Homo sapiens: one gene and its partners. The protein of the gene in region 2 purifies or fractionates together with the protein of the main gene of each other region. This does not show direct contact. Each region holds a gene or a part of one and is shown on either strand. Other genes may lie near its edges. The genes, in order: HSPG2, GPC5 and GPR179.

The links.
Region 1: the proteins of GPC5 (region 2) and HSPG2 purify together in Homo sapiens (affinity purification with mass spectrometry; one large-scale study listed by BioGRID and IntAct). This does not show direct contact.
Region 3: the proteins of GPC5 (region 2) and GPR179 purify together in Homo sapiens (co-immunoprecipitation; one study listed by IntAct). This does not show direct contact.

The regions. Positions count from the first base shown.
Region 1 is NC_000001.11:21,850,311-21,853,966, forward strand, and holds part of HSPG2 (basement membrane-specific heparan sulfate proteoglycan core protein isoform b precursor), read right to left. Parts: intron 2,761-3,656; coding exon 2,609-2,760; intron 2,523-2,608; coding exon 2,390-2,522; intron 1,924-2,389; coding exon 1,778-1,923; intron 1,617-1,777; coding exon 1,481-1,616; intron 1,388-1,480; coding exon 1,236-1,387; intron 189-1,235; coding exon 53-188; intron 1-52. UniProt on the Homo sapiens protein: Integral component of basement membranes. Component of the glomerular basement membrane (GBM), responsible for the fixed negative electrostatic membrane charge, and which provides a barrier which is both size- and charge-selective.
Region 2 is NC_000013.11:92,864,480-92,867,752, forward strand, and holds the end of GPC5 (glypican-5 precursor), read left to right. Parts: intron 1-1,802; coding exon 1,803-1,960; 3' UTR 1,961-2,758; downstream 2,759-3,273. UniProt on the Homo sapiens protein: Cell surface proteoglycan that bears heparan sulfate.
Region 3 is NC_000017.11:38,324,031-38,327,072, forward strand, and holds the end of GPR179 (probable G-protein coupled receptor 179 precursor), read right to left. Parts: coding exon 2,435-3,042; 3' UTR 541-2,434; downstream 1-540. UniProt on the Homo sapiens protein: Orphan receptor involved in vision. Required for signal transduction through retinal depolarizing bipolar cells.

The DNA of each region.
Region 1 (3,656 bases), on a different chromosome or scaffold from region 2:
GGGGGCCTCCCACCCTGGGTCCCCAGCCCTGCCCTCCCTGAGAGCTACTCACCAGGCACTGAGCCCGCAGGCTCAATGGTGACCAGGACAGAGGCCTCTAGAGGCACGGAGCTGCCCAACACTCGGCACACGTACTCGCCCGAGTCGGCGGGGGACGCTTGGTAGAGTCTCAGCAGGGAGCCGTGGGTCTGGCCAGAATGGGGGTGAGTCAGAGGGAGCCCTCAGGAGACCCCTGTTCCTATAACCTGCAACCCTGCCTCACTCTGACCCCCAAGGCCTGGCCATCAGCTCTGGATCAGTTTCCCTGTCCTTCACATGGGGAAGGGGGACTCTTGTCCAGCAGCGGGGTGGTAGACCAGAGGAGCCCCAGTGAGCTGGGTACACACTCACACCACATCCCATCAATTCTAGACACACATTTCGATGTCTCCAAAATCAAGATGCATCTACAATGAATAACCTTACAAATAGAAGCTTTTTCTTAGAGGTACATAAAATCATAGCGGATCTCGCAATCAGTGGTATCCTAAATTCTACAAAATATGGTAACAACAATAGCTAATGGCATTATAGTAAAATATTAACAGCTTAGAGTACTTTCTGTGAGCCTAAGCTCTGAGGATTTTGCATATATTTTAATCTTTAAGATAATTCTGTGAGGTACTTTTTTTTTTTTTTTTGAGACTGAGTCTCGCTCTGTTGCCCAGGCTGGAGTGCAATGGCGTGATCTTGGCTCACTGCAGCCTCCGCCTCCTGGGTTCAAGCGATTCTCCTGCCTCAGCTTCCCGAGTAGCTGGGATTACAGGCGCCTGCCACTATGCCCGGCTAATTTTTATATTTTTAATAGAGATGGGGTTTCACCATACTGGCCAGGCTGGTCTCGAACTCCCGACCTCAGGCGATTCGCCCACCTCGGCCTCCCAAAGTGCTGGGATTACAGGCGTAAGCCACCGTGCCCGGCTGGTACGTACCATTGTTACCATTTTATAGGCCCTGAAACTATAGCACAGAGAGGTTAAGTAACTTGTCCGAGGTCACAAGCTAAGTGGTGGAGCCAGAATTCACACCCAGGTTAGTCAGTCCTAGATTCTGGTTTCTAACCACTGCACTATACATCTGTGCAATGGGGTCCAGGGCTTCCTGATCTCAGGGGAGCCTCTAGCCCTCCCCCAATAACCTCCGCCACCCAGGGACCCGCTTCCTCTTCTTGGCCTGTCTGTCCTCCAGTCCCATACCTGGTGCCGGACAGGGAGGCTGCCCCCACGCTTGTGCCACGTGACCTGGGCATGGGACTGCCCGGGCACCACGCAGTTCAGATCCAGGGTCTGCCCTTCCGCCACTTGCGAGGAGGAGGGCTCGATGCGGATGGGCTGGGTGCTGCCGGCAGCTGAGGGATAAGATGGTCACCGGTCACTCCTGTTCTCTGAAGCCACTCCAGCCTGTTCTCTGCATCCCAGCCCAGCCTGGTGGCCCCACTCACGGTAGGCTAAGTTGGCCCCCTGGGTCCCAGTTACTGTGACCGTGATGGAGGCCTCCATGCCGTTGCTGGCCCGGCAGACGTACTGTCCCGCATCGGCAGGTGAGGCCTGGAAGATGTACAGGCGGGAGCCACGAACCTGGGCAGCCGTGGGCAGAGGTGTGAGGGGGGCTTCCCGGAGGCCAGCAAATGCCCCACCGCTGTCCCCCCGATCTAGGAAGTGCCAGCCCCTCAGCCTAGGGGCCAGGATCCTGCAACCCACTGTCCATGGCCCCGTCCCACATTCTTGGTGCCCTGTACCTGGTGCCGGGCAGGGAGGCTGCCCCCACGCTTGTACCATGTGACCTGGGCGTGGGCCTGCCCTGCCACCACGCAGCTCAGATCCAGGGTCTGGCCCTCGGCCACTGTGGAGGATGAAGACTCGATCCTGACAGGTGGGATGGGTCCTGCAGCAGTGGGGATGGGAGTGAGAGTTGTAGATGCTCCTGAGATGAGAGGGCAGGGGTTGCCCACCCTGCAGCTAGCTCAGCCCAGGGTTTCAAGGCCAGATCCAGCTTTTCAGGCATCTGGGGGCCTGGACTTGATGCCCTCAGCTCAGCAACCCTGATGGGAGGACCAGGGCATGGGCCACGCCTTGCAGAGGGGAGTGAGGAAGTGAGAGAGATGAGGGCAGAGATGAGTTGGAGAGAGGAAGAGGAGGTGGGAGGGGACGCCTGAGGAGTCATGTGGCCAAAGCAAAGTGTGACGGGAAGGCGGTGGTTACTCTGACAGGTGGAGTCGGCCTGGGCAGGGCCCTGCAGCCAGCTCCGGTGTGGGCCTTCTGCCCTGTCAGCAAGAGGGGTCCCTTGGATCTCACCACCCCGGAGGCCTCTCTGCCTCCTCCAGCTTTCCATGTCACTGGGAGTCACTCACCAGGGATGACAGAGGCTTCGATGGTGACCAGGACTGAGGCCTCTAGGGGGCCGGAGGTGCCCACCACATGGCACACATACTCGCCTGAGTCGGCCGGGGTCACCTGGTGCAGCCGCAGCAGCGAGCCGTGGGTCTGTGTGCAAATGGGGTGGGTTGGGAGGGGGCTGGAACAGTCCCATCCAGCCCCTCCAGCAAGGTGGTCCCGGGGGGCTGCCATACCTGGTGCCGGGCAGGGAGGCTGCCCCCACGCTTGTGCCACGTGACCTGGGCGTGGGCCTGCCCGGGCACCACGCAGTTCAGATCCAGGGTCTGCCCTTCCGCCACGTGTGAGGAGGAGGGCTCGATGCGGATGGGCCGGGTGCTGCCGGGCACTGGACACAGAGCGGCTGCTCAGAGGCCTGAACTCTTGGGCTGTAACCTGTAGCCCTGGGGCAGAAGGCTCTGGGCTGTGACCAGGCCCTAGTGGGGACGGCCGACAGGTGGCCTTTCTGGGACTAGGGCCACACCCTTCTGCCTCCACATGGCCAGCCGAATATGGCTTCTTCCCTCCCCAGCCTCTAACCACAAGCTGGAGGCCCATTGACCCACCCATGACTTCTTGATGATGAGCTCCTCTGGCCCATAGGGAACCAGCAAGCTTTACTACCCAGGCTGCGCCCAAGGATGCGGATGACAGTGAGACACCTCCCTTCTACAGGACGTCTTCCGTGTGCTCACAAGTACTTTCCATAGACACTGTCTCATTTAAACCACACCATGACTGGCCAGGCGCGGTGGCTCATGCCTATAATCCCAGCACTTTGGGAGGCTGAGACGGTCGGATCACGAGGTCAGGAGATCGAGACCATCCTGGCTAACACGGTGAAACCCCGTCTCTACTAAAAAAAATACAAAAAATTAGCCGGCCTGGTGGCGGGTGTGCCTGTAGTCCTAGCTACTCAGAAGGCTGAGGCAGGAGAATGGTGTGAACCCGGAAGGCGGAGCTTGCAGTGAGCCGAGATCACGCGCCACTGCACTCCAGCCTGGGTGACAGAGCGAGACTCTCTCTCAAAAAAATAAAATAAAATAAAATAAAATAAAATAAAATAAAATAAAATAATAAAAAAACCACACCATGACCAAGCAGGTGGGCAGTACTGCTCCATTTCATAGATGAATCTGAGGCCCCAAAAGTTAAAAGCTAGTTCAAGGTTGCTAAGGGGCAGATCTGGGATTTGAACCAGGTCAGCCGACTCCCAGCTTAGTATTCAACCTGGACATTCTGCTG
Region 2 (3,273 bases):
TGGATCCCATCCAAACACAAATTCACAATGCTTAAAAATGAAAAGTAAATCCTGTAATGCTCAAATTTATGTAGTTATCTTAGAAAAAAAAAATATTTTTAATTGCCTGGAGTCCTCATAGCTTCTTGTTAAGCTTAACAAGAGGTATAAAGCCATGACTAAAATATTCACACTCCACTCTAGTCCCTATTTAAAAAAAATAAAAAAGGGAATCACTAGTTTATTCATCTTGCCTAATGACACAGAAGGGCAAAACAAGCACCCAAACAATGAATAATAATGTAAGAGCTCAGACTGTAAAATCAATATGTCAGATCAGCAGAGCTTTGCTTCGTTTTAGTGCTCTCATGTCTGAATGCAGCACAGCTTATCTTCTGAATTATATATATATATATTGGCCTAATTACATAAATATTGACTTTTCCTTATATGAAGTTTATTCTTTCAATCTCTCTGTAATTACCATGTCAATATTTGTGGCTGTAGTAACAATGAATTTAAATCTGTTAATTGTGACTGATAGTGGCATGCTATGAGATAATTCAGTCACTTAGTCTCAGAACACTGATGGCACTAGATAATAAGTGATGAATCAGTAATTCCCTAGGTATATCGTACTAAGGTAAACATCTTTAAAAAGCAATTCTTTCAACCCAGTTAATTAAGGGGATAGTTTTTTCCTCAACTTGTCAGGTTTCATAACGTACGGAAGTAATAACCAGAATGCGACTGGATCTTGGTGTATGACTTTGCCCGCTTTTTTTTAAATGAAACACTTTATCCCTAACTTCATTCTCCAGTCCACCCATTAACAACTTCTTTGATCTGTTGATAGATATCTACACCTCCATCCTCACAGCTGTATGTGTGTATGGAAGATATAATTTAACATTTGTTGCTATTATTCTTTGCTATTTGCTATTTCCATAAAGGTCCTAATTCCTGATCTCACTTACATGTGGAATCTAAAATAGCTGAAGTCATAAAAGGGGAAAGTAAAAGGGTGGCTGCCAGGGGATGGATGTGGGGAAGGGAGGGGAGATGGTGGTTGGAGGGTACAAAGTTTAGTTAGACAGGAGGAAGAAATGTTTTAGACCATTGCGCAGCATGGTAACTATCATTCATAATGTACTGTATATTTCCAAATTGCCAAGAAGGTACATTTCAAATGTTCCCTCCACAAGAAAAATGCTAAGGATGTGAGGTGATGGATATGCTAGCCAGCTTGACTTTATCATTCCTCCTGGTATACTTGTCAAAATATCACATTGTACCCCATCAATATCTATAAAATTTGTCAAGTAAAAATGAAAATAAATTTGAAAAAGATCTTAGGCCTACTTTATTCTAATGTAAAATATGATCTGTAGAAATTCTACTTTTAAAAAATATTTTATTCAATTATATCCCCTCAACTGGTTTTATTTTCATGGGAAAAGTTTTCAGTTACTGAAGGTGATAAATCTCTGAAACAAGAACTAATCCCATACCTAGGATATATTAATTAATTAAATGTCTTCACTTACTTACCAGTGGCAGAGAAATGTTCCAAAAATTTTAAAAAGCTAAAAATCTTTTCACTTTGCTCTTATAATATTTGAGAATTTTCACACAAGAGCTTGAACTCTCCAATCTAAGTAGGACAGAAATACCTGTGTCATATTAATTATGTTAGAGTTAGGTGAACATAGAGAATGGTCCCCAAAAACAATGCTGTCCACACTTTGAGTTTAAGAGTTGTTCTAGACGTATTATGGTGAAGTGGTCATGCATCACCTGTGCTTTCTTATTTGCCTCTACAGGGATGCCAGATGATATGAACTTCAGTGATGTAAAGCAAATCCATCAAACAGACACTGGCAGTACTTTAGACACAACAGGAGCAGGATGTGCAGTGGCGACTGAATCTATGACATTCACTCTGATAAGTGTGGTGATGTTACTTCCCGGGATTTGGTAACTGAACTCTTCTGTCCTGACATACCTTACTGAAGTCTCGATTTCTTCTCTCTCTGCATATGCCTGGAATAAGAGATCCTTTTTCAATGTAACAATTATATTTATGAAAAGATATGTTACACTAACTTCTCAGAAGCCAAGCTGAAATATTCATAAAGTCCCTAAAACTCAACGTTTAAATGACACACTTTAAAAATATGTCTTTTTTCAATCTAACTGAAAACCTTCTTAACTTCTAATATATTAAATCTGAAGATGTGAAGGGCACAGAAGTGACTTTGAATAAGAAGAATTTAGTGTATCTGTAATTTTATTATCAATTCCAAGCCCCTTCCTTTCTAAATTAAAAATGTTTTCATTTGAAAGTGTATTTGCCAGACAATGAAAACAGTATGCAGTATTTCTTAAAGTATTGAAATTAGAATATCATGAAATAAATCAAAACATACAATGGCAAGTAGTATGCATGCATATTCAAGAGACTCTTCCATTTTTGCAAGCTGTAGAAGGAAATGTCTGAATGTCTATAAGTTATGGGGTAGATTCTTGAGAAGCATTTCATATAATTTCACTGAAGAACCTTGATAATTTTGACCCACTGTAACTTAGCCACTGATGAACCTTAAAGCTGAGTATTTTATTAACACCTGATTTGTATTCCATTATATTCAAAATGCATCTTTGGTATTGTGCCTCTGCTCCCATCTCTCTCTTTGCCTCATAGATTTAGCTATGTTGGGAAGCACATGCTTGCTCTAGGAATATCTCCAATAAAGCTGTTAACTATTTGGTGGAAAAATTTGAAGAATATTTGTCATTTTCTTCTGGCAAAAATGCTATTTTCACCCATTTTCAAAATATTATGTACTACTTTTTAAAGCCTGATGTTGTACAATTGGCTACCTTTGCATTTCTAAGGTTCCTATGAATATCTGCAGACATGTACAGAAAAGATGATATGCAACACTTTAGCTCTTTCCTATTTGCTCATTAATGGAGCTGCAAACCAACAGTCCCTAATTTCTCAGTTGGGATAAGTTGCCTCAATAGACACTAATAGGATATGTATATGGCTATACTTGAGGAAAAGAGAAGTTAGTTTTTATTAATAAGTATCACATCCAGTCTACAGAGAGAAAATATAATTAATACAAAGTCACAGAATAGAAAAGGGAATTGCTGACCTCAAATAAAAAAAAACAAAAAAAAATTTGAAATGACTTCTGACAAAGACGTAAACAAGACACAGCCAAATGCAAACATTAATAAGGTAAAATCCGTTTCTGCTAGTCAGGAAACAATATATGATCAAAC
Region 3 (3,042 bases), on a different chromosome or scaffold from region 2:
AAAATGAGAAGGGACGTGCTTTTGAGCAGGACCCACTGCCAGGGAGTATGGAGGAAGGGGAAATAATCCTTGCAGGGTAAGGAAGCAAAGAAATGAAAAAAAAAAAAAAAGCACACTTAGTGGGTAAATGATACATTGATTCCTTTGAATATGTAAAAATAGTGCTTCAAATAAGCTGTTTCATCCCACTCCCCTGGATATCTCAGGGTTCTCTAGATAATCCTAAATAGGAGCTAAGCAGTAGCTGCCACCAGAGAGCCAGAGGATGAGTGCAATTTCCATTTCCCCTTGGGATTAAATCCAGCTGAGCAAATGGCCTCCAGATGTGAGGGGCTGGCTAGAAGGACCAGGCAGAGACCATCTGCAGTGTCAGCACTGACCTGGGCACTAGCAGAGCATTAGCCAGATAACCCAAAGTCCCAAGACTGCAGTGCACCTTGAGCTTTGGAGCAGGCATTGTTCTTTCCTTATCTATCTTCTGTTACTGTTTAAAAATGTTAAAAAAAGATAATCATGAATAAGCTAGAGCCAACTGCAATGTCAAGAAAAAGCATTCTTTATTTCCGCCCCGCCCCCCCCACCCCATGGTTTATTTCACAAGAGTGTGTTTGGCGGCAACTTTGCTGTTTCCAGCTAGACCAGACCCAATGGGATTGTTTTGGGGTGCACAGCAAAATCCACTTTAGCTCAGAAGCCGTAAGGCTAACTAGCCAGAGCCCAGAACAACAACACACTTCAATTACTGCTCCAAAAGCCCAGAATAAGGGCCCTAGGTAAGAGAATGAGGACATCTGGTCCCCAAAGGAGAGTAGGTTACTCCATTCCTCTGTTCCCTTTTGGAAATGGAGTACTTTTTTACTTTCTCTGTGAAGTCCCATAACCGCCCAGCATATTTACATGCAGACTAGATGTTAATGGCTCTTTTTCCCTTTGGGTATTTGGTCTCCCTGTTTGTCTTTTTCTCCCCATGAATGACATCAATGTCTGTACTGTTGTACTGTTAGAGGGCGTGACTTACTGCCATCTTTAGTGCCCCTGTGCAGCTCTGCCTTCTCTAGCTGCCCCTTCCCCCCTCTCCCACCTCCCTTTGCCAATCTTGGGACTTCTTTGTATGTTTTTCTCCTTCTTCCTTTCCCTCTGGTATTATCATCTAATCCCAGCAATTTGTAATCTAGTACTGCTTAAGCAAGTGTAGCCTGAACTGACGAGAGAAGGGAGCCAAGAAAGAGAGAGCTCCCTAAGAAAGAAGGCTTTGTCTTCACACAGTGCCCTTTTCCCAGCTCTCAGGCTTCTAACTTGCCCTGTAGCACTCCTCTTTTAGAGGGCAGAAGAAGTAGAGTGCTGGCTGTGTACAGGACTGCCTTTCTTGAGCTCCTCTGGAAGGAGATTGATGTGGCCTCTTGTTACTGAGCAAGTGATTCTTGGGCGGGGAGGGGTGGGGGAGGGTGGATGGGTCTTGCATCAGAACCAGAGATTCCCCTTGACTCCAGTTGCCTTGACAAAAGAGAGAGGTCCTGTTGATGGCAGCGCTGAAAAGCTAGGGGGAAGGAAATGAGCCAGTGAGACGAGCTCTGGAGACTGGTGAGAGCTAGGGCAGGAAGAGGGGGAGACCCCCTAAAAAACTAGCAAGAGGCACACAAGGATGTCTGGAAGGAAGAGCTCCCTTGACTGTGGGGAGGACCTGGGGCAATTGCTTTTCTTCTGTGTTCTCTCTCTCTGATGTTGCTTTGGATGCCAGATGCTGATAAGGGTGTCAGCGTGCCTGATTGTTTCTGCTTCAGCAGTCAAGCAGGGCAGGTATGAGAAGCAATAAAGCAGAAACAGGAGATTCAAAGTCAAAATGACAAGGTCCTTAAAGCATTTTCAGGCCCCTATTTTGAGTCATTTTAGCTTTTCCCCCAATTTATCTTCCGCTTCAATTAAATGGCTCTTCAGCTTTCTATGGTGGCCTTTATAGCCTTCTGTGGTCCACCATCCCTACGTTGCCAACACTTTGTATGGTTTAGTTTCTTCTCAAAAAATGCTCCATCGTAGACTTCAGAGAATTGGGTCCCCCTGTGAGAGAAGGTAGGCTGGGCACAACTGACTTTTTTCATCCCTAACAGTGGCTTTGTGGGTGAGTGTCCAGACTCGGGTGGTTTGTGTTGTGAGTACTGTAGGTGGATGGGAGGCGTCCTTAGAAGTAGAGTGTCCAGTCTTTGTTTCCTCAAACAGGAAGAAAAGTTAGAAGTAAAGAGAGGGTGGGCCTTCCCATTGGGGTCTAAGCTGTACCCTTTTCATGCAGTTTGTCTTTGGGATGGGTTGACTTCTGGTCTTCTCAAGGAGGGGAAGTGGCCAAGCTGTCTTTGATTCAGCTCTTTGGGAACACCTGGACTTGGAAAGGGCCTTGGCTCCTGAAAGCTAGCTCTGTGTTTGACCTCACCTAATAAGGCTGTTACTCCCAATCCCAAGGATAGACAGTGGGAGGGGTGAATTCTTCATACTGAGCTTCAAAAGCCACTTGGCCTGAGTCTTCAGTTAAGGACGAAGACTGAGACTCAGCTTCCTGGAGACTTGGCTCTGGGGCTAAGCTGGTCCTTGGCTCAAGCCCTGAAGGTCCTTGTAGTTCTCTGACACCTTCTAGAGTGAAAGTACTGGCTGGCCTGCTTACCTTGGGGCAGGGGATTTTGCTTTCTGGAAAGAAGTGATCCAGAGGCCCATGGACTAAAAGGCATAGTGGTTTTTCAGGAGCTGTGGGGAAAAATTCTCTCCGAGTTGCTGTTAAAGCCAGGAGGCCAGATTCCTCAGATGGGACTCCAGTTTCCTCCCCAGGACAGATGTCTGCCATGGTACCCTTTATTTTATTTCCTTCTGGATCTGTGATTTCCCATTGGCACAGCTCTGCCATCCTGCTTCCCATGCTGCCTGCTTCCTTGGGGCTGACTTTGAGTTCTGGGTCCAGGGCACCTGACTGGGGCAAGAGCCCTCCTGAGCCTGTGCCTTCCCCAGGGCAGACTGCCTCCTGCTCTCTGGGCTTTGCTGCTGCTTTTGAGAAGTGTTCTT